7 linked regions of the Homo sapiens genome follow. The protein of the gene in region 7 purifies or fractionates together with the protein of the main gene of each other region. This does not show direct contact. Each region holds a gene or a part of one and is shown on either strand. Other genes may lie near its edges.

What was found.
Region 1: the proteins of HECTD1 (region 7) and COPA purify together in Homo sapiens (affinity purification with mass spectrometry, with the first as the bait; 3 studies listed by BioGRID). This does not show direct contact.
Region 2: the proteins of HECTD1 (region 7) and IGF2BP2 purify together in Homo sapiens (affinity purification with mass spectrometry, with the first as the bait; 2 studies listed by BioGRID). This does not show direct contact.
Region 3: the proteins of HECTD1 (region 7) and RFC1 purify together in Homo sapiens (affinity purification with mass spectrometry, with the first as the bait; 2 studies listed by BioGRID). This does not show direct contact.
Region 4: the proteins of HECTD1 (region 7) and FMR1 purify together in Homo sapiens (affinity purification with mass spectrometry, with the first as the bait; 2 studies listed by BioGRID). This does not show direct contact.
Region 5: the proteins of HECTD1 (region 7) and DDX6 purify together in Homo sapiens (affinity purification with mass spectrometry, with the first as the bait; 2 studies listed by BioGRID). This does not show direct contact.
Region 6: the proteins of HECTD1 (region 7) and TACC2 purify together in Homo sapiens (affinity purification with mass spectrometry, with the first as the bait; 2 studies listed by BioGRID). This does not show direct contact.

What each region holds. Positions count from the first base shown.
Region 1 is NC_000001.11:160,333,251-160,336,750, reverse strand, and holds part of COPA (coatomer subunit alpha), read left to right. Parts: intron 1-1,428; coding exon 1,429-1,509; intron 1,510-3,071; coding exon 3,072-3,148; intron 3,149-3,500. UniProt on the Homo sapiens protein: The coatomer is a cytosolic protein complex that binds to dilysine motifs and reversibly associates with Golgi non-clathrin-coated vesicles, which further mediate biosynthetic protein transport from the ER, via the Golgi up to the trans Golgi network.
Region 2 is NC_000003.12:185,644,837-185,647,042, forward strand, and holds part of IGF2BP2 (insulin-like growth factor 2 mRNA-binding protein 2), read right to left. Parts: coding exon 2,189-2,206; intron 788-2,188; coding exon 695-787; 3' UTR 1-694.
Region 3 is NC_000004.12:39,307,363-39,310,862, reverse strand, and holds part of RFC1 (replication factor C subunit 1), read left to right. Parts: intron 1-1,830; coding exon 1,831-2,227; intron 2,228-3,500. UniProt on the Homo sapiens protein: Subunit of the replication factor C (RFC) complex which acts during elongation of primed DNA templates by DNA polymerases delta and epsilon, and is necessary for ATP-dependent loading of proliferating cell nuclear antigen (PCNA) onto primed DNA.
Region 4 is NC_000023.11:147,914,919-147,918,418, forward strand, and holds part of FMR1 (fragile X messenger ribonucleoprotein 1), read left to right. Parts: intron 1-3,500.
Region 5 is NC_000011.10:118,756,665-118,760,164, reverse strand, and holds part of DDX6 (probable ATP-dependent RNA helicase DDX6), read left to right. Parts: intron 1-120; coding exon 121-243; intron 244-1,262; coding exon 1,263-1,391; intron 1,392-2,877; coding exon 2,878-2,994; intron 2,995-3,500.
Region 6 is NC_000010.11:121,992,163-121,995,662, forward strand, and holds part of TACC2 (transforming acidic coiled-coil-containing protein 2), read left to right. Parts: intron 1-2,469; exon of another isoform or gene 2,470-2,548; intron 2,549-3,500. UniProt on the Homo sapiens protein: Plays a role in the microtubule-dependent coupling of the nucleus and the centrosome. Involved in the processes that regulate centrosome-mediated interkinetic nuclear migration (INM) of neural progenitors.
Region 7 is NC_000014.9:31,103,294-31,106,793, reverse strand, and holds part of HECTD1 (E3 ubiquitin-protein ligase HECTD1), read left to right. Parts: coding exon 1-148; intron 149-1,125; coding exon 1,126-1,204; intron 1,205-1,317; coding exon 1,318-1,411; intron 1,412-3,500. UniProt on the Homo sapiens protein: E3 ubiquitin-protein ligase which accepts ubiquitin from an E2 ubiquitin-conjugating enzyme in the form of a thioester and then directly transfers the ubiquitin to targeted substrates.

The sequences.
Region 1 (3,500 bases), on a different chromosome or scaffold from region 7:
TTGATTATAAACAAATATTAAAAAGAAATTTAAAAAAATTAAATAAGAAGAAAAATGCATCTGGTCTCTTATTTTTGTACATTTTAGGGGATTTTCTGAATGAGGAAGATAAGCTATTTTATATTTATGATCCTGGTTTTCATGTCTTCAGTTGTGTTCATTGATGCCTAGTACTTTGGTAGTTGACTCAACTTCACATCTGAATATGATATTGTTTCTCTGCTTAGCTCAGGCTTACTGAGCAATGTAGTATTTTCCATGTAATAAGTTAAGGTCTGTTTGCTTGACAGGTGAGTACAGACCACACATGTATGGGCGTTGTTTGCCATCAAGTTAGGAGCCTAAGAAGCTGATGCCCTATATTATTGTTTCCCTTGGAGTCATGGTATCTATCTGTCCTACTTTTTTTTTTTTTTTTGAGACCGAGCCTCTCTCTGTCGCCCAGGCTGGAGTGCAGTGGAGCGATCTCAACTCACTGCAAACGCCGCCTCCCAGGTTCAAGTGATCCTGCTGCCGCAGCCTCCCAAGTAGCTGGGATCACATCCGGCTAATTTTTTTTTGTATTTTTGTAGAGACAGGGTTTCCCCATGTTGGCCAGGCCGGTCCCAAACTCCTGACCTCAGGTGATCCCCCTGCCTTGACCTCCCAAAGTGCTGGGATTACAGGTATGAGCCATCGTGCCCAGCCTGTCATACTTTTTAAAAGTGATGGGTAAAGCACTTAAGGGGTCTATATTCAAGCCAAGAGCACAATTTTGCAGTAGAAAAAAGAGTTGCAAATCAAGCCCTGGATAAATATCTCCTGCTATTAAATGCAGATGGCTTCTTCCCAAAGAAAGAAAAACTTTTTTTTTTTTTTTTTTTTTTTGAGACTGAGTCTCGCTCTGTTACCCAGGCTGGAGTACAATGGCATGATTTCGGCTCACTGCAACCTCTTGTATCCTGAGTTCAAGCGATTCTCCTGCCTCAGCCTCCCGAGTAGCTGGGACTACAGGCACATGCCACCACGCCTGGCTAATTTTTTGTATTTTTAGTAGAGACAGGGTTTCACTATGTTAGCCAGGATGGTCTCGATCTCCTGACCTTGTGATCCACCCGCCTCGACCTCCCAAAGTGCTGGGATTACAGGCATGAGTGACCACGCCCAGCCTGAAAAACTTCAATAATTTTATCTTTAGCTTTTCCCTAATCCTACCCCAACCCCATGTTGTTTATCTGACCTATATTTTCATTCTTGTTCTTTTCCCCTCAAATCTTAAACAAGGCTTTCTACCAAGGTTCCTACCTATTTAGAAATGCCAAAATACAAATAATGTATATAAATCTATATTTATATACATATTTCTATCTCTGTAAAGATATCAATTTCTCTGAGCCTTTTAGAGGCTCAATAACTATTTCTGTTTCTTAGTTTGATTTGTCTTTGCAGGTTTGGAATTACAAGCTTCGGCGCTGTCTTTTCACATTGCTTGGGCACTTAGATTATATTCGCACCACGTTTTTTCATCATGTAAGTAGTCATGGTGGCGCTAGTTTTGGAGCATTCTTAGTTTCCCCATAGTAATCTTTATTTGATCCTTGAGAACCCATGTTTTAATAATAGAGTTGTTTTTGGAGTGGCTCTTCTACAATCTGTGTGGTATTGTCCTTTCTGCTTTTTTTCTTTCTGCAAAAGGAAGCACTTGGGATTATACTGAATTTAATTTTATTGGATTCAGTGGATTCTATGGGAAGTCATTGTTTCTCTGTAGGGAAAAGTAGGGATTTGATTTCAGATTTGCTGAACCAAAAAACAAAAGTTTGCCAGCTAATCCCATGTAGGGTATTATTAGTAAGTAGTAGGTGTGTCTGGAAGAAGGTCAGACTAAGATGCCATTTTGATCAGCTAACAAACGTTTCGAAGTATTAACAATCATACCCCTCTATCCTAGGATTTTTGGGTCTGGTGGAGGCTGTTCCCTTAGCCAGGCTTACTACTTTCTTTGATCTGCCAGGTAACATAGTAGATTTAGATAGTGAGGTGCAGATTACAGACTCCCAACCTCTGAATCCAGTTGCACCCTGACAGGATCTCCTTATAGTTCTGTGTATTAGCATTAACTTACACTATTCTTTGATTGCCAGTAAATTAAGTCTCTTTAATTAAGTTAGAAAGAATATGATGAAATAAACAATTTACTGGTTGAGTATATATTATTTCTTTTTTTAATTAAAAAATTCTAGGATAGGAGAGAATGAGAAAATTACAGCTTAAACATTTGAGAATGATAACCACTCAATAAGATAACTTATTAAGTAGGAATTATTTGTCATTGCCATAAAGGACTTCCTGAAGACCCTTGCCTAGAACAAGTTGCCATCTACCTGGAAAGTTACGAAAGACCTTATTTTCTTTCATTTTACCAGCTCACTAAATATGTGTGTGCCTTATACTTGCTAAGCTTTGTGCTAAATACTGAAGGTAGAGATACTATCTCTATTGAAAATAGAAATACCATCTATTTTCAGTGTTTAACACAAAGCTTAGCAAGTGTAGTAAGAAGGAAGTGTAAATAAGAAATACTTCCTTTTCTCAACAATCTTATAGACTCCAAAAAGGCTAAATTGTCTTTACATGTTACTTTCTGCTTTGCTTGCTGAGACCTGGGAATTTTTTGAAACTGGACAGAAAGAAGTCAGACAATAAAATAATATTCCCATCCTAGAGTTAAAGGTAGAAGAGTCTTTCACAGGATCTTAATTTACATGATTAACTGTATATAAATACACACACACACACACACACATATAGAAGTAAATGTAAATGTATGTTTCACTATCTGCCTCTGAGAATGTATTGTGCCTCTAACTGGCTTCCATTCTTAAGTCTTATAGGTGAAAGTGCCGAAGTTGAGAAAAGCTGTTAGAGTGGTAGAGAAAAGGAGACAGCTAACCTGATAGCAAAAGCAGCAGCCCCTTTGCTAATGTAGCTGAGCCGTTAAGCAATGCAGTTCTTTAGAGAAAAATGATTACAAGAACCTGATAGAACAGATTTGTTTAATGTTTAAAGCCTTTGTCTGGAATATCTTTCAGGAATATCCCTGGATTCTGAGTGCCTCCGATGATCAGACCATCCGAGTGTGGAACTGGCAATCTAGAACCTGTGTTTGGTAAAGCAGGAGGCAGAGGGCTCGAAAAGAGTCTTCATTTTTCCTAGTTTTTCATAATGAGCTTCTCTTAGAACAATCTTCTCCCTTCTCAAATGGACTATGTCGGCTGATTAATTACTGATTGTATTTGTAGGATGCTTTTAAGTGCAAAATAATAAATGTAGAGGCAATCCCATATATGAATCTGGACTTCCAATAATTTCTTACCAGGAAGAGAAGTCATATAGCCTTTTAGAACAAGAACTTTTAGCTGGTTTTCAATTATTTTCCCATAAAACCTGAGTCAAGGTCTAGACCTTTGTCTTATTTTGTGTTTGGAGCTGGAGCTTTACATAGAACTTTCCATGAAGAG
Region 2 (2,206 bases), on a different chromosome or scaffold from region 7:
TACACAGGTGATCCAGAACTGCCGTGAGTGTCCTTCCGACGAGATTTCCCTCTGGGTGAATTTTGTGCGGGTGGCCTCAAAGCTCCTCTCTACACCGTGAGACCTCCCAAAGACTTTATTCTTTAAAGTCTAGAAAAGCCTGCTTTCTCTTTAAAAAGAAAAAAAAATTAATAATTGATTAAAAATTGGAGTTAGTTGAGTTATTTGATATATTATTTCTAAAATATATTACCGCTGCAGGCACCCTGTGTAACCCACAGGCCACATATCTTAACATCTTCCCTTTCTAATATGTACACACATGTACAGAGACGATTTGCCACAGAAAAAGGGTGTGCATTTTGCTTGGCTTTGAACACGTTCACCTATGTTAGTTCAACTAAAAGGGATAGCGTCGTGGGAGTTCAGGAGAGATCCGAGTGGATGGTGAAGTGGATGGCTGAAGCCTGCAGAAGCCCTGGGGGGCGGGAGGCGGGGCTCGGTGGTTCTGGCAAACCTGGCTGACCTTCCCCGCCCCTCCTCGGCCCCTGGGGTTCTCAGGGCCTCGGCAGAGTCCCTGGCCGCCTCCGCAGACTTCTCATTCCTCAGATGGTCTTTGGTTTGCTCCCGATCTGGCTGGCTGCGTTTGGTCTCATTCTGTCAGGTGTTGGAAGGGCTACATTCATCCGTTGTTTTGCTGGTGCCTGTGGGAGCCTCACTTGCTGCGCTGTGAGGCGACTCCCTGAGGGTATTTCTGCTCCTGCTGCTTCACCTGTTGTACAATTTCCCTGATCTTGCGCTGTGCAGTCTGCAGCAAGGGAGAGAAGGGAGAGGAAGGGACAGGGGAAAAAAGGAACCCAGTTCTGAGGACAAACGGCAGGGGAGGCTCTGGGGCTTGGGGATGAAGGGTGGAATGCTCAGACAAGCATCATCTACCCACCCCCGCACGTTACTCCAGGCCCTTTTCTGCCTGGAAGTAAGTGGCAGAGGTCCCCCCTCCACTCCCACCCCAAGGTCCAGGGTAAGGGGATGGGACTCCGGCAGCTTCCAGTTCACTGCTGGACGGACAGGCCAGGAAGCAGAAGCAGGGCGCCAGCAACTGGGGGCCGTGCAGAGTCAGATGCTACACTTGGGCTCCCGTGCTGCTCCCGCCCCCGTTCTACAGCGGCTAGGAGGGCATGAGTGTGAGGGACAGGGGAGGGAGGGAGGAACTGAGCCCAGATGCTCTACCCTGAACAGCTGGAGCACACACATGAACCCCCACCTGTCCCCTCACCCAGCCTAGCACTGTCCCTGCAGGCAGCTCCCTGCAGACTGAACTCCTGTAGGAACAGGCTGTTCAGACACATTCCCAGGGCCCTGAGGAGCTGAGCTGGGAGACAGCAGACAGGGGCGTGGCCAGGGACTCTGACTGCAGAAGACTCAAGTGAGAATTTCAAAGGGCACTGGGCGGGGGGTGCGTGTGTGGGTGGCGGGGGATCCACAGTGTGGCAGCTGCCCTTTCCTGGACCATCAGGTCTCAGCACAGGCACAGGTGTTGGGAGAGCAGGCTGACAGCTTAGACAAACCTTCAGTGTCTGCTTACACCAAGTACACTGTTTGTCTTCACTGGTTTAGGACAAAGACCAGGAACGCTCTCCCCAAAACTCAATTTACAAAAGCATCAAAGAGAAAGAGGCCAGGTGCTGGCCTTTCCCAATGAAAGAGAAGCGGCTGTGTGGAGGTGCAGTATTTTGATAGGGTGGGTTGTGGTGAGACCGAAGAGGAGGAGGAGAGAGAAATGCCGTGAGCATGTAGTCTTTCACAGGGAGTGCTCAGGCTTTCAGGGAGGAATCCAGAGGGTGGGCTTGCCTGGCTCCCAGTGGGGAGGCTGGGACTGAGGCCTGAGGAGAGAGGGTGAGGGAAGCTGAGGCCATGCCCTTAAACACTGCAGGGGGCTTGGAACCACATGGCTTTGCTTAAGCGCTTAACTCTTCACTCTTCCCCAAGCTCCTAGCATACATACCTCGGGGATGACAGTGGAGAGAAGTGTGAAACAATGTCCCCTGCCCCGGGGGCCATCCCTAAAGAGCCAGGAAGAACCAGGGAGAGGTTCCATCTTGGCGTGGATTGATGCTCAGGGCCTGTGGCCACCTGACAGGCCACCAGCAGCTTAGCAGAGAATTGAAAAGAGACTTGCAGGAGAGACAGGGCCCTCACAGCACAGTACCTGGCTAGCAAAGAAGTG
Region 3 (3,500 bases), on a different chromosome or scaffold from region 7:
GCCATATTCTCACGTTGACTTTATGCAAAGGTTATTGTTTAAGAGTTCCTTAAAGGATATTTTAATAGGTATTAGCATGATAAATTTGTTTTCAATTAGAACTGTATTAGGACTTTTTAAATTGTGCAGACACCTAGCCTGTATTAGCTTTTGCAAAAGGAAAAATGTTGGCTCACATAACTAAACTATGGGCAGGGAGGGTCTGGTCTAGGAACTATTGGATCCACAGACTACAAAGCTGTGAGGACCCCTTCAGTTTCTGTCTCTCTGTTTCTACTAGTTAGCCTCATTCATTCCCACTGTAGACCATCTTTTTTTACACACAGGACACAGGATTGCCAGCATTCCAAGATTTTAATGTCCCCAGCTCTGTCACCCAAATGGCAAGATGGTCCATCCAGGTTATTCCGGTTAGAGAAATCTAGGGAATGATTTCGATTACATAACCATAGCATAGTTATAAAAACCAGGAAATTAACATTGATGCCGTATTGTTAACTAACCTGTACATATTTTTCGAACCTTACATTTTTCCCTGTAGTTCTTCTGTTCCAGGGTCCCACACTGCATTTAGTTGTGTCTTCTTAGTCTTCTCCCGTCGATGACATTTCTTCAGTCTTTCCTTGTCTTCTTACAACCTTGACACTTTTAATGAGTACTGGTCAGTTTTGTGGAATGTCTCTCAGTTTGGATCTGTGATGTTTTCTCATGATTAGGTTGAGGTTATGCCTTTTTTCTAAGAACACCATGGATGTGATCTTGTGTCCTCAGTGCATCCTATCATAGATACAGGATGTCAATAACGTCTTATTATTAGTGAGGATAATCTTGATTATTTGGTTAAGATGATTCAGCATCCCACTGAAACTAGTGCTGGGTTCCTTCACTAGTAAAGTGACTATTTTTTCCTTTGTAATCGATAACTGTCTTGGCAGGAGAAGGAGGTACTTATGCTTATATCCTGTTTGTCCTTAAACATTCATCCACTAATTTTAGCATCCACTGCTAAAGAGGCACTAATTTTTTTAAAAACTGAGATATTACATACTATAAAATCCACCCTTATAAAGTATACAAATCAGTGGTTTTTAGTATATTAACAAGAGTATACAACCATTAGCACTGTGTAATTCCAGAACATTTTCCTCACCCTGAAAAGAAACCCTGTACCTATCAGCAGCCACTCATTCTATCCACCCCGTGGCACTCACTGCTCTGCTCTGTCTCTATGGATTTTCCTATGCTGGACGTTTCACGTGTGTATGGAGACATTAGAATATATGGCCTTTTGTGTCTGGCTTCTTCCACTTAGCATAGTGGTTTCAAGGTTGACCTGGGTTGTAGCATGTATCAGTGCTTCAGTCCTTGTTAGGGGTAAATAATATTTCATTGTGTGGACACATCCTATTTTGTTTCTTTTTCAGTTGATGGACATTTGGATTGTTTCCATCTTTTAGCTATAATGTGGTTATGAACATTTGTGTACAAGTTTTTGTCGAGGCATTAACTTTTAATTAGGAAACTTTGAAACAAAAATCTCAACACTGTACCTTGTTTTTTTCAAACTAAAATTGGAGTACTTATTACTTTTAAAAATCAACGTGTTGTCACTTTTAGAAATTGCATTTGGTGGTTTCTGGTGTGTTTGTTAATTTTTATAGTTTAGAAGGTGGTGATTTCCACAAACAGGAAAGTCTGTTGTGAAAAGACCAGCCCAGGTTGAGTAGCCCACTTGGATATCTCTGATTGCTCTCTGTAGTACGTTTAGCAGGATAGAAATTCTGTATGTTTCATCAGGTTTCTTTTTTCCTCATTTTTCCACTTCTTAAGATGAAGAAAGAGTCCAAACTGGAGAGAACACCCCAAAAAAATGTCCAAGGAAAAAGAAAAATTAGTCCATCTAAAAAGGAATCAGAATCTAAAAAGAGCAGGCCGACTTCCAAAAGGGACAGTTTGGCAAAGACAATAAAAAAGGAAACAGATGTGTTTTGGAAAAGCCTGGATTTCAAGGAGCAGGTGGCTGAGGAGACAAGTGGTGACAGCAAGGCTAGGAATTTGGCTGATGACAGCAGTGAAAACAAAGTGGAAAATTTGCTCTGGGTGGATAAATATAAGCCAACCTCGCTCAAGACCATAATTGGACAGCAAGGTGACCAGAGCTGTGCCAACAAACTCCTACGCTGGCTCCGAAACTGGCAAAAGAGTTCTTCCGAAGATAAAAAACACGGTGATTTTACAACCTCACTCATTTTTGTGTGTGTGTATATCAACATGTGATTGCTCAGTGGCACATATATGAGAAAATCTAACGATTCATTCATCTGTCAGCAAGCATTTATTAAGAGCTTGATCTGAACCCAGGTGCAGTACTAGACCCTGCTGGTGGTGTTGTGAACAAAACAGTCCCTCTCAGGAGCTCACAGGCAGTGGGGGAGGCATATCTGAACCAGCCATTAAAATATATTTGCCAAGTACTGCTAGAGGGGTAAGTCCAGGGTGCTGTGAGGATGAAGATGTGTGGTCAGGGCCAGGGTGTGTGTGCTCCCATCCCAGAGGAAGGGATGGCTAAGCTAAGACTTGGAAACAAAGTAGGAGCTAGCTAGGTGAAGGGAGGGAGAGATGAGTGTTGGGTAGGAAAGAGTATGTGTCCCAAGGTCTGAAGCCATGTGACAGCAAGACCCCTGAGTGGCAAGGGCACTAGGAGGAAAGCTGTGAATAAATAACAGAGGCATGCGTGCAGGGCAGTCAGCCTAAACTCCCAGTAGCAAGCACGATTTGCTGTGGCAGGCCCGATAGGCCTGTGCTTCTGTAGTTTCTGTCCTTGTTTATGATGTATTATTTGTCGTGGAGAGTGAAAAGCTCCAATATGTATTTAATGTCCAAAGTATTTTCTTAACTGAGCTTTGAGATCACAAATGTTTTAGTAGTGTTTTCAACATAGACCAGTGATGACTAGATTGCCAATCATCATTGCCAATGATGCCTGTTTATTTATAAAAATAATATATTGTAATGATACAGGACTAAATTTAAGTTAAATCACTTTTTTCATTCTGAAACTTCATAAAATCTCCCTTAAAAGAGGAGACAGGCATTTCATGTGCCTGGAGAAGACTGTTTTTTTTTTGTTTTGTTTTGTTTTGTTTTGAGACAGAGTCTTGCTCTGTTGCCCAGGCTGGAGTGCAGTGGTGCGATCTTGGCTCACTGCAACCTCTGCTTCCTGGGTTCAGGTGATTCTTCTGTCTCAGCCTCCTGAGCAGCTGAGACTACAGGTGCACACCACCATGCCTGGCTAATTTTTTGTAGTTTTAGTAGAGATGGGATTTCACCATGCTGGCCAGGCTGGTCTTGAACTCCTGACCTTGTGCTCTACCCGCCTTGGCCTCCCCAGGTGCTGAGATTACAGGCGTGAGCCACCGCACCCAGCCAAGAAGACTGTTTTAAAGCTTCGGGTGAACTCTAGTCCCTGTCTTCATGCCCGCTGGCAGTAGGTTGAAAAC
Region 4 (3,500 bases), on a different chromosome or scaffold from region 7:
TTTTAAATGTAGAATGCGTATCACTCCAATATGAATGCCCTAATGAATCCTAAGATTTGTAGGTTTTGTGTACTAGTATGAAAATTACTAAAGATGGAAAAATCACATGTTGGAGACATAAGATACAAACCTTTTTGTTTTCTGAAAATACAACCTCTGATTTCTGATTCCTTGTTGTAATATGGTGTAATTATACTAGATTGTAATTTTGTTGTTAGATTATACTTTTTTAAGTTCAGTGTTTGAGGACAGACTTTCATTTGGTTAGTAGTATTATGGCAGCTAGCAGCTAAATATGATAAAGTGTACAATCAAAAGGATATTTTTAATGAAGATATTAGTGGTCTAACATGTCATTTCAGATACATAGCTGAAATGTAGTAAAATCAGTTTTACTACAAATAAACTTGCATAAGGTTTATAAATTTATAAGTTTATAAATCAACTTGGGTAAAGTGTAAATAAACTTGCACTCGTGGTTTCTCTGAAGTCTCCTGAGCTAACTTTGCATAAAGGTGTTATTCTGTACTTCGAGGAAGTGAATTATTGGGGTCAACCACATTTTTTTTCCTTCCTACAGTCTGATTGCCCTTTTTAGTTTTTAGGATCTTTGTGGCTGCATCATTTTTCCCCTTTTGAACTGTGCATTTTCTAACCCCATACTTAAATATTCTCATAACCTCCAAATTATTAATTAGATGCAACATTCAGTGGTATATTACTGGAGTTTCTGATTTCTGCCCACTATAGGAATGTGCTTCCTGAGAAGATTGGGATCGTGATTATAATAATAGTTAACAGGGGATGAGTACTTTCTAGGTGCCAGGCACTGTTCTCTCTGATACTTTATTTGATGTATTGTTGTTATTCCCATTCTTTAAATGATGCACAGAGAGGTTAGGTAAGTGACTTACTACCAAGTGTCAGGGCCATTAAGGGTCAGGATTCTGAATTCCTGAAATGATGAAATTTAGCTTGAAGAAATTGGTTTGATTTCCTGCTTAGTTTTCAATTTCATGGTGGTCTTTGATTGTATTTTGTGCTATAACACTGCCTTAGCATCCTATAACTATAGTTACAGTGTTATATTACCATTTTTTATTGTTAATACAAAGCCATCATGAAATAATTCAGTTTATGTGCCAGCTTTTTTTGTTACTAATTCTTGAACCTTGGCGCTGTACTTCTTCATGTGGATGCCTGTTAAGGAAAGATAAAGTTAGAAATCTTTGACCCTGCTAGGAAATTTGTCTTTGTTATATTGGGAGCTCATAAAACTGAAGTATTCAAAAGTTAGAATACATACACACAAGAAAAATTAGTAACTAATTTAATAATGTTTTCTTTGCACATGTCTCTGTTGTCTTTTGGTCAGAGTGAAGCTAAATGTGTTTTTCACATAATTTGTAGCCTATATGAAGTCCTGGACATGTGGTATGGTTGGAAGGACTGTTGATGAGGTTTATTGTCTCTCTTTATTCTTTTATGTTGTTAGTGTCCCCATACAACGGGGCGGGGGGAGTGGGGACAAAATGATAACTTGCTTTATATATGAAGCCTTGGGTTTGAATCATACTGTTATCACATTTCCTATGTCCCTATCCTGTCTCCTGCAGGTTTTCTTTCTTGGTTTTCTTTTTTGGTTTTCTTTCTTCCTTTCTTCCTTTCTTTTCCTTTCTTTCCTTTCTTCCTTTTTTCTTTCCTTTTCTTTTTTCCTTTCTTTCCTTCATTTCTCTCCTTTGCTCCTTTAGTTTGTTTCTTTGTTTCTTTGGTTTGTTTCTTTGTTTCTTTGGTTTGTTTCTTTGTTTCTTTAGTTTGTTTCTTTGTTTCTTTGTTTCTTTCAACAGGTCTCACTGTCGCCCAGGTTGGAGTGCAGTGGTGGGATCTCAGCTCACTGCAACCTCCACCTCTCGGGTTCAAGCCAGTCTCATGCTTCAGCCTTCCGGGTAGCTGAGATTACAGGCATGTGCCACCATTCCTGGCTATTTTTTGCATTTTTAGTAGAGATGAGGTTTCGCCATGTTGGCCAGGCTGATCTCAAGTTATCTGCCTGCCTCAGCCCTCCAAAGTGCTGGAATTACAGGCATGAGACACCGGGTCCAGCTTCCAGCAGGTTTTCTTTAGGAGGGATATTTTACAATGCTGTAAGTTTTTCCTAACGAGAATTATCATAGCACTACATGTTCTGTCTTCAGTAAGTGATACAAGCTTACTGATGATGTTGTAGTTATGTTCATTGGTGGTCGGGTGTACATTGAAACTTTAACACATAATAGCCTCTCCTGTGAGCAGTGGTTCCTGTTGGTAAGATACTTTACTAAGGGAAGGAATGTGAGGTGTCGCTGGGGAGAGTTTACCCAAATAAGGATGGACTTTCTGTCTTTGTTTCATCAGTCCTGGTAATAGAATGTTTGAATAGATAGCTCTAGGCATTACATACTTTCATAAATATGATTATTGTAATTACCTCTTTGGCCCAGTTGCTAGTAAATTAGGGACCCCTTAATGATTTATTTCCTGTTTATTCACCCTGATGAAGAACTTGTATCTCTTTTAAACTGTACTTTATCGCCTTTCTCAAATTCCAAGATTCTCATCACATTTTTTTTCTTCCCAAACTCTAAATAACCTTTTAATATTAAGTATCTTTGTGGAAACATTGTTTTCTTTTTCTATCCCAATTTTTAAAGCTTTTTTAAAAAAAAGAGTGCTTTTGTTGGGATGTACATTTTCCAAATGCAAAAACATTTATGATTCTGTGTCTCTTATAAAATATGACACTCTCTACTTTTCTCTCATTTATTTAGTGCCACCTATGTGTGTAATTTCATTACCCACAGCAGTCTTAGGAGGCTGGTCGAGTTCCTTATTTGCAGATGAGGAATCTGAGGTCCAGAGATCACTTCTTGGTGAGAGTCTCACAGCTATTAAGTATTAGAGCCAAGATTTTGAACGTAGGTCTGATTCACAGCAAAACCGTTAACCACTAAGTACACTGACTCCAGTAAGAGCCCTAGTCCTCACCCAATACACTTTAATTCCCCTGTGCATTCATTCAAATTCATTGAATTTGCTGCCTTTGGAAACCTCTCAGGAACCTCCTCAACCTCTCTTCTCTACAGACATCAGCTTTGCCTGATAGGTAGGGATCATAGCAAAACACAGTTTTCCAAGGTGGTGATAGGTGGAGTGATAGTGCTCTGGAGATGGCCAAAGAAGGAAGGTATGAGTGTATCTGTGGGTGGGTGAGTGGTGGATAAGGGGAAGGACAGAGCCAAAAGCGACGGCTATTGGAAAAACTATGATGAGAAACAGGAAGATGGAACCTTGTTGGAATTAGTGAAAGACCTTAGAATTCACAGGAGGTATTTGTCCTTCACGCGAGTGTAGACCAAACGTAACCTATGAGTTTCTTTTATTCCACTTATTAAAGCAGCAACCAAAGGTATTATATACCTTCTGTATTCACTTAAAATGACTGATTTTGAAAAAGTCATGCA
Region 5 (3,500 bases), on a different chromosome or scaffold from region 7:
CCACCAGGAACATTTCATGGATGCTTTTGTTGGATGATGCCTTATTCTTTGACCATGTATTAACCAAGACCTTAGACATTATTTTATTGTTTTTAAAATTGTCTTTTCTTTCTACTGCAGGCAGATAAGTTGCTGTCACAGGATTTTGTGCAGATAATGGAGGATATTATTCTCACGCTACCTAAAAACAGGCAGATTTTACTATATTCCGCTACTTTCCCTCTTAGTGTACAGAAGTTCATGGTGAGTATAAATCTGTACTTGGAATCAGTGCCATCCTGTGACCTTTGAGTATGCTTTTATTTGTAATTACATCTTCATATCTGTGAATATACTTTATGCTAATTATTTCAAGCCTTTGGCTCTTTCTTCAGTTGATCAATTAAAGATTTGTTTTACGTAAATTAACTGACTTTTTAAGAAGGTTGTAATAGTAACTTAATTAAATTCCTCATCTTTCACTTAGTTTTTGGTGTCATGATGACATAGCCATTGGTGCTAGCTGAATTGATTCCGGTATTATTCTATATACAAAACAGAGCTTGAGTATCCTAAACTGAAATCCAAAATACTGCAGAATTTGAAACCTTTTGAGCCACGAACATGATGCTAAAAGGAAATGTTCTTTGGATTTTGAATTTTCAAATTAAGGATGCTCAGTCACTAAGTGTAATGCACATATTCCAAAATTAGAAAAAATTTAAAACCTGAAACACTTCTGTTCCTAAGCATTTTGGGTAAGGAATACTCAACCTGTAGTAACTTAGCTGCATTTTTGAGATCTTATATCTTAATTTATTTCTATCGGGTCGGGCATGGTGGCTCATGCCTGTAATCCCAGCACTTTGGGGGGCCGAGGCGGGCAGATCACAAGGTCAGGAGTTCGAGACCAGCCTGGGCAACATGGTGAAACCCCGTCTCTACTAAAAATACAAAAATTAGTCTGTTATGGCAGTGCATGCCTGCATTCCCAGCTACTCGGGAGGCCGAGGCAGGAGAATCACTTGAACCCGGGAGGTGGAGGTTGCAGGGAGCAGAGATCGTGCCACTACACTCCAGCCTGGGTGACAGAGCAAGATTTTGTCTCAGGGTGGCAGGGGGGAAATTCTGTAATGACAGATCATATATTTTGTTTTGAAGAGAGTTGCGTCCCTTACAGCAAGAGTTTATCGGACAGAAACGTATAGGGTATATTTTGAATTTGAGATGAACTCTGCTTTCATTTAAGACGACGACTCATCTTTTTCCCGCTCCCCCCCCAGAATTCCCATTTGCAGAAACCCTATGAGATTAACCTGATGGAGGAACTAACTCTGAAGGGAGTAACCCAGTACTACGCATATGTAACTGAGCGCCAAAAAGTACACTGCCTCAACACACTTTTCTCCAGGGTAAGAAGTAGGCTTCTGCTGTTGAATATTATCTCTCGAGTCCCAGTAAAACAGATGATTTCATCAATTTTCCCACCGTCTTCACTGTATAAAAGTTCGTAGTGTTTCTGGCTTGGCACGGTGGCTCATGCCTCCCAGCACTTTGGAGGCTGAGGCAGGCAGATCACGAGGTCAGGAGTTTGAGACCAGCCTGGCCAACATGGTGAAACCCCATCTCTACTACAAAATACAAAAAAATTGGGCATGGTGGCGTGTGCCCATAATCCCAGCTACTTGGGAGGCCGAGGCAGGAGAATTGCTTGAACCCAGGAGGCGGAGGCTGCAGTGAGCTGAGATTGCACCATTGCACTCCAGCTCTGGGCGACAGAGCAAGACTCCGTCTTGGGAAGAAAAAAAAAAAGATTAAAAAATAATTCATAGTGTTTCCTAAAAGGCAGGTTTAGTTGTTGACCTAAAGTTGATACTAAATGATTAACCAAGTCACAGATACACTTTTGAATAGTTTCTGAAATACTTTGACCTTAACTAGGGTTAATCCTCATTATTCACATATTCTGTATTTGTGAATTTGCTTAGTCACTAGAATTTATTTGTAACTCCGGAATTAATACTCAAGGTAGTTCAGCAGTCATTTGTGGACGTGTACAGTGTGGCAAAGAGTTTAAGTCACCTGACATGCACATTCCCAGCTGAGGTCGAAGAAAGCAATCTCTGTCCTCTTGTTTAGCTCTCATACTGTGAACAAGGGTCCTTTTCACAGTCTGCCATGTTTTTCAAGTTTTTGTTGCTGATTTCACAGTTTTAATTGGCCCCTACACATGGTGCTGAAGTGCTGCCCAATGCTGGTGGCATTGGTTGTGAGTATATTAAAGAAGGTATTCTTGGCTGGGCACAGTAGCTCATACCTGTAATCCCAGCACTTTGGGAAGCCGAAGTGGGCAGATCACCTGAGGTCAAGAGTTCAAGACCAGCCTGACCAACAGGCTGAAACCCTGTCTCTACTAAAAATACAAAAGTTAGCCAGGCATTGTGGTGGGTGCCTGTAATCCCAGCTACTCAAGAGGCTGAGGCTGGAGAATTGTTTGAACCCAGGAGGCAGCTGTTGCAGTGAGCTGAGATTGCACCATTGCACTCCAGCCTGGACAACAAGAGTGAAACTCCATTTCACAAAAAAAAAATAAAATAAAATATTTTTAAATGGAAACACATAAAACATAACTACTTTGAATCAGATAATCAATTGTATTACTCTTGTTGACAGTTATGTGGCCCTTAAGAAATATACTCTAATACGGTAAATCTTAGATATTATTATCTTCCATCTATTATTTACAATTTTTACAATTTACCATCTCTCTCATATCATGAGATTCTAAGTTTTAGACCATGTTAATGTTTCTTTTTTGCTGGTTCGTGTTTTCAAGATTTGGCAAACCAAATGAAGGTTTTTTTTATTTTTCTCATACTTATTTTTTTCTGTGCTCAGCTTCAGATAAACCAGTCGATCATTTTCTGTAACTCCTCTCAGCGAGTTGAATTGCTAGCCAAGAAGATTTCTCAACTGGGTTATTCTTGCTTCTATATTCATGCTAAAATGAGGCAGGTGAGTATAAAACTAGAACTTGCACAAATTTAATAAGAAATCTCTTTCTTTATTTTGTTTTAATGTTCTTTTAAATGTCCTGAGTTTAAGAATAAACTGTTCCTTAGTAGCCAAAGGACCTTTCATTTTGACCTCCCTCAGGTTCAATTTTCTAGCAATAAAATAGGGATAATAGTACATATTCATAACTTACAAGGTTGTTAGGAAAATTAAGATAAATGTTTAAATGAGTACTTTGGAAGCTGTCAGGCATGATACAAATGTAAAATTTTATTCTTCCCTTCCTTTCCATGTTTAATTCTCTGTTTAATACAGTAAATAGCCACATGTGGCAATTTAAATCAGTTAAAATTAAAATAAAAAGTCAGTTTCTCAATCACAGCCACATTTCAAGTGCTCAGTTAGGCACCTGTTGCTACTGGATAGTGTATTGGAATTGGAAGTACAGACACAAATATTTCCTTTATTATAGAAGTTTTACTGGACAGCACTGCTCTGGATTTTTA
Region 6 (3,500 bases), on a different chromosome or scaffold from region 7:
AAACTGTTCCCAGATCAATAAACTGGGAACAAAAGTGAGAAGTGGTAGAAAGCTGTGAAGAAGGCCCAGAACAGCCCACCCTGATATGCCAGGCTGTTCTTTTGGAAGAAAGCAGTTTGTACACAAGAGAGGTGATGCTGAGAAAGTGAAAAACCTGAAGGTTTTAAGAGCCGAAAAAGTGCTAATGTGAAAACACGCCACATGGTTTTATGTAGGGGCCCCTTTACTTTAATGCTTTTTCCAACAGGAAAATTTGACTTAAGTTATTTGAGTGCAGAATTACACAAGAACTTCAAGAAAAGTTATAAAATGTAATTGCACAGAACAACTCAGTTCTAGAATAGGGATTTTCCATTTTTGGAGGGCTTTTATGTACATCATCATGATTAAGTCATGCTGGGCCTATGAAGAAGGTGGAGTGTGGGATCATTCTCTTTTTCTGCCTGATGAAATGGAAGTGCTTAGTGCTTGGGCAATTGATCCAAGTCACTGCTAGAAAATAGGTGAATTGGTTGGGCATGGTGGCTTACGCCTGTAATCCTAGCATTTTAGGAGGCCAAGGAGGGTGGATTGCCTGAGCTCAGGAGTTTGAGACCAGCCTGGGCAACACGGCGAAACCCCGTCTCTACTAAAATACAAAAAATTAGCCAGGCGTGGCAGTGGGCACCTGTAGTCCCAGCTACTCCAGAGGCTGAGGCAGGAGAATTGCTAGAACCTGGGAGGCAGAGGTTGCAGTGAGCCAAGATCGTGCCACTGCACTCCAGCCTGGGCAACAGAGTGAGACTGTCTCTAAAAAAAAAAAAAAAGAAAGAAAAAATAGCTGAATCGAGACTTAGCATCCAGCCTTCAGAACCCTCATTCAAAACTCTCTGGGAAGCTAGGCATGGTAGCTCACACCTGTAATCCCAGCACTTTGGGAGGCCAAGGCGGAAGGATCCCTTGAGCCAAGAGTTCAAGAACAGACTGGGCAATGTTGCAAGACCCCTGCCTCAACAACAAACAAACAAAACAAAACTCTCTGGGAGGTCCTTTGGTATTACAGCATTTTAGTTATTATAAAACTCAGTCTTCTTAAGGAAGACAACTCAACTAACTTTTAAATGTGTGAAAAAAAGGAGTTGTAGTCACTTGAATTTGCACTCTGAATACTAGAATAATTTTGAAAATTAAATATTTCCGATGAAAATTAGATTACCTTTTAAATTTTCTCTGAAAAATTATACATTCACATGAGATAAAATCCCTAGACTAGAAAAGAAATATGAGAGGGAAGTCTTCCTCTTTCCCTGCTCCCGAGTCCACCCACTGTCACTAGTTTCTTATGTGAGTTTCCAGAAAGAATTATTTATATATTATAATGTAGCACATTGTATGGTTAGGTTTAGATCATTGCCTTTATAATGTAGTATTTACACATAAATGTATATCCTCCTTTCGGGGCTTTTGTTTGTTTGTTTTTTGTTTTTTGTTTGTTTGTTTTGGAGACAGGTTCTCAATTTGTCACCCAGGCTACAGTGCAGTGGCACCATCACAGCTCACCGCAACCTCAACCGCCCTGGCTCAAGCGATACTCCCACCTCAGTATCCCAAGTATGTGGGACTACAGGCGTGCGCCACCATGCCTGCCTAATTTTTTTGTTGTACTTTTAGTAGACTCTACAAGGTCCCTCTGTGTTGCCCAGGCTGTTCTCAAACTCCTGAGCTCAAGTGATTTGCCCTCTTTGGCCTCCCCAAGTGCTGAGATTATATAGACGTAAGCCACCACACCCAGCCCCTTTCTTTTTTCTTTACATAAACAATAGTATATCATACACACTGTTCTGTATCTTAATATTTTTCACTTGATGTATCTTGGAGAGTTTTCAGTGACGGTATATAAAGAGCTCCTCACCCTTTCTCCAGCCGCTTCGTTTCCCATTGTATGATTGCATCTTTAATTCCCTGGCTACTGATGAAACTGTAGGTGACATGCTGTTTAGAACTCGCCTAACTAACTGCTCATTCTCCCTTTCTAAAGGAGGCATATTGACATGTTTGAAAAGGACTGCTTGATACTGTCAGCTGAGGCTGGTGATGACCTGTCCCTATTTACTAGAAGCACTGCTAATTTTATGCCTTGTTTTTTTCTTCTTTTATGGTTGCTTTGTTTTGAAAAGTGGCTTGTCCCAGCCAAAATATAAGTCAAGTAAATCAAATTGCAGCCCAAGGTAGTTGACACTGGCTTCGGATCCCAAATAAATGTGTAGTGAGAAGCACAGAGAGCTGGAGGCTGGCGGCACCTGCAGGCTCCCTGCTCCTTATTACCCTCTCCCTCTGGGCTGCAGAGCCTTCTGGAAAGCCGCTGCCTGGCCTGGGTCAGATTGCTTACACGCCACTGCCTCCCAGGCCGGCGTTCCCAACCTTAAGCCAATGCACATTTATAGAACAATTCCATGTGATCCTGGGGAAGACAGACTGCGGGTGGAGGGCAGTGCTGAAAAGGAGCCTCTGGAAGAGAGGGCCTTCTCCCGCTTCTCTCCTCCTCCTCTCCACGCTGGGGGGATCCTGGGTGAGTGAGTCTCAGACTGAGGGCTTCTTCCTTTGAGCAACCTGTGGCTTTAAACCGGTTTGACTACTGAGATTAGAGGGATAAAAGCATTGCTTGTTTGCTTTCCTTATAAAGTGAAATTAAAGGCATATCTGTGCCTCTCCACTCCTTGTTTTTTAAGCCAAATGAACTGTACTTTTTCTAATACGTCACTGGTTACTTTTGATAGACTATGGCCCCATTAATCTAGACCTCGATCTCTTCATTTGTGAAATAAGGAGTTGCGCTGGATGATTACTGGAATTTCTTCTGGCCTCTGTTGTGATTCTGCCCATCACAAATTTTAGTTTCAAATGTTTGTGATTCTGCAGAATGATGACTTCAGAGAGAACCCCTAAGGCCCTGAGGGTTTGTAGGACTTTGTGGGAGAAAGTCATTTGAAAGCTCGTATTGTGTTGACCTTGACATGTTTGCACAGGTATTTCTCTAGACTCTCACAAGTGCCTTTCCAGGCCTGTTTCTGATGTTGTGCCTGCCAACTTGAGCCGCCGTGTGATCTTGGCAAACGCTGTGTTTCTGAGTTTGACTTGGTGTCAGTTATAACTGAATCATCAGGTTAAAGCCAAAGTTAGGCAGAATTCTAAGCCTCATGAGAGAATCCTACAGTTCAGTTAAACACAGAAGTGTGTGTGTATGTACTGTTTCATACCCTGTTCCATAAAACAGAAACGCCCCGACCAAAAGCCTTTATCCCACTGACACCACTTATAATCTATTGTGTAATATCTGCGTATGTGTGTATACAGGGGGCAAAACTCCTCCCAGTTCTAGTGGCATGGTGAGTGTATTAGTCTGTTTTGCATTGCTGTAAAGGAACACCTGAGACTGAGTAGTTTATAAAGAAAAGAGATAGTTGGCTCATGGTTCTGAAGGCTGTACAGGCTTGGCACTAGCACCCACTTGGCGTCTGCTG
Region 7 (3,500 bases):
TAAAAGAAATTAAAGACCTTGCTATCAAGAGGCGCCAAATTTTAAGCAACAAAGGTCTTTCTGAAGATGAGAAGAACACAAAATTACAGGAACTAGTGCTGAAGAATCCATCAGGTTCTGGGCCTCCACTTAGCATAGAGGATTTAGGGTAAGCATTATATGTACATTCTTCAATCCAATGCATGAATAAGTTTTAAAGCTTTTGTTTCTTTGTCGTCACTGATTTGCAATATATGAGTAAATAGTCTGTCAAAAACAGTAATATGCTGTAGGAAATATTGATGATCGACTTGAACCTTTGATTTAATATTATAAAGACAACACTCAGAATACTAGAATATTAGTTTATTAATCATCAAACCTTTAGAAGATTACCTGACTTAGCCAATGTGAATTTATATGCCTGTGTAAAATGTCCAGAGCCAACAATATTTTGACAAATTCATCTGCTAATATATGATTCACTTTGCAAAGCTCAAAAATTGGTTGGTATGTCAGCTTTATCACCAAAGGCTGTAGCAGTTGAGATGCTGCAGAACTTTTGATAAAACTCTGTTACTTTATGTACAGGTAATTATCATATCTTCAGCTGTGATTTTAGGTTAACTGCAAGGCCTTTTTTTTTTAATGTTTGCTGATAATGTTGGTAAACTGTGTTTGATAAATGGTTATATATTCAAGGTTTTTTTTAATATATATTTTTGTACACAGCGTGATTGACTTCAGTAAAGCAACAGTTTCTTCCTAAAAGTCTTACAAACATGTTGCTGTCATAATTCATTGCAAAATTTTTAGTTCATTAATTTTGTGCCATAAGTTAGAAGTAAAATATAGAAAGGTGGTTTCATGCAATCTTTGCAAAGCCAGACAGATTTGATAACAGTTGGCCTAGTAGATTTTGTCCATAGAATATTGCATTTAAAAAGTCCTCAACTTACTTCTAAGCTGGTGTACTGATTTTGTTGGAGGAGGAGAGGGGTGGGATTTATGGTTTTGATAGCCATGTTATTTTATTTAATTTTTTCTCTTGTACCCACTGATGGCAGATGATAGTAATGTTATAAAAATTAAACACCATTAGTAGTAGCTGCATGTCAGTTAATTTAATCTTTTTTGTCCTCCCAGTTTAAATTTCCAGTTTTGCCCTTCCTCAAGAATATATGGTTTTACAGCTGTGGATCTCAAGCCAAGTGGTGAAGATGAGGTAAAAAGTTTGCTTTTAATATAGTTGTAAGTTCTGACATATCCTCTTAGCAAGGCCAGTTGTACTAGACACTCCTGAAATATTCCTAGATACTGACAAATTTTCTTTTGCAGATGATAACAATGGATAATGCAGAAGAATATGTGGATTTGATGTTTGACTTTTGTATGCATACGGGTATTCAGAAACAAATGGAAGCCTTTAGAGGTAATTTTAAAGGATTTTTAGCATAATTGCTCTCCTTTCACTTTGAGACAGTTGAAATTATGGTCAAGAATTGCTGGTGGTCGGCTGGGCACGGTGGCTCACACCTGTAATCCCAGCACTTTGGGAGGCTGAGGCGGGAGGATCACCTGAGGTTGGGAGTTCGAGACCAGCCTGACCAACATAGAGAAACCCTGTCTCTACTAAAAATGCAAAATTAGCTGGGCATGGTGGCGCATACCTGTAATCCCAGCTACTGGGGAGACTGAGGCAGGGGAATTGCTTGAACCCGGGAGGTGAGGTTGCGGTGAGCCGAGATCACACCATTGCACTCCAGCCTGGGCGATGAGCAAAACTCCGCTGCACAAAAAAAAAAAAAAAAAAAAGAATTGATGGTGGTCGGGTGTGCGGGTGTGGTGGTGGCTCACACTTGTAATCTCAGCACTTTGGGAGGCTGAAGCAGGAGGATCGCTTGAGCCCAGGAGTTCCAAGACCAGCCTGGGCAACATGGCAAGACCCCATCTCTACAAAACATTTTTTAAAAAATTAGCTAGATGTGGTGGCACGTGCCTGTGGTCCCAGCTACCTGCAAGGCTGAAGTGGGAGAATAGTTTGAGCCTGGGAGGCTGAGGCTGCAGTGAGCCATGTTTGTGCCACTGCACTCCAGCCTGGGCAACAGAGGGAGACCTTGCCTCAACAAAGAAAGAAAGAAAGTGGACATAGGTTGCATACATTCTAGATTACTTGATCAGGATGAATTAACATGAAAGAATCATGATGGGAACAAAGTATATTACAAGGTAAATTACTTTTGAAAATGAGAACACAGTTTTGCCTGACTTGTATGACAGAAAGAGCTGGTGAACTCCAGACTGAGTAGTAATAAGAATTTGCATACTGACCATAGCAACTGAATGTTCTCTCTCTGTTCACGTTTGTGATGTTAAGCAGGGATTTCTAATTTAAAATACAGTTTTAATTTCAAGCTGTCTTAATTTATGCTTGTTTATTCAAACATTTATGAATGTTGAATATTCATCTTCTGTCCATTTCATCGGTAATGGGTATTTTTTTATTGTTGCATAATATATGTACATGTTTATGGGGCATTTTGATACACAGAATGTGTAATGATAAAATCAGTCTTTAGGACATCCATCATCTTGGACATTTATCATTTCTATGTGTTGGGAACATTCAAATTATTCTCTTCTAGCTTCTTTGAAATATATATTATTGTTAACTATAGTCACCCTACTATGCTAGAAAACATTAGAACTTACTCCTTTTATTTAATTGTAAGTTTGTACCCATTAAACTACCTCTCTTCATCCACCCCCACATGCAACATTCCCAGCCTCTGATACCATTCTTTTCTTTACCTTTATGAGATCAACTTTGTTGTTTTTGTTTTTTTGAGACGGAGTTTTTGCTCTTGTTTCCCAGGCTGGAGTGTGATGGCACGAACTCGGCTCACTGCAACCTCCACCTCCTGGGTTCAGGCGATTTTCCTGCTTCAGCCTCCCGAGTAGCTGGGATTATAGGCATGCACCACCACACCCGGCTAATTTTGTATTTTTAATGGAGATGGGGTTTCCCCATGTTGGTCAGGCTGGTCTCGAACTCCCACCCTCAGGTGATCTGCCCACCTCGGCCTCCCAAAGTGCTGAGATTACAGGTGTGAGCCACCTTGTCCGGCCAAGATCAACTTTTTAAGTTCCCACATATGAGTGGGAACATGTGATACTTGTCTTTCTGTGCTTGGCTTTTTTCACTTAATATAATGACCTCCAGTTCCACCCATGTTCCTACAAATGAAAAGATTTCATTCTTTTTTTTTTTTGAGACGGAGTCTCAGGCTGGAGTCCCAGGCTGGAGTGCAGTGGTGCCATCTCGGCTCACTGCAAGCTCCGCCTCCTGGATTCACGCCATTCTCCTGCCTCAGCCTCCCGAGTAGCTGGGACTACAGGCAGCCGCCACCACGCCCGGCTAATTTTTTGTATATTTAGTAGAGACGGGGTTTCACTGTGTTAGCCAGGATGGTCTCAATCTCCTGACCTCATGATCTGCCTGCCTCGGCCTCCCAAAGTGC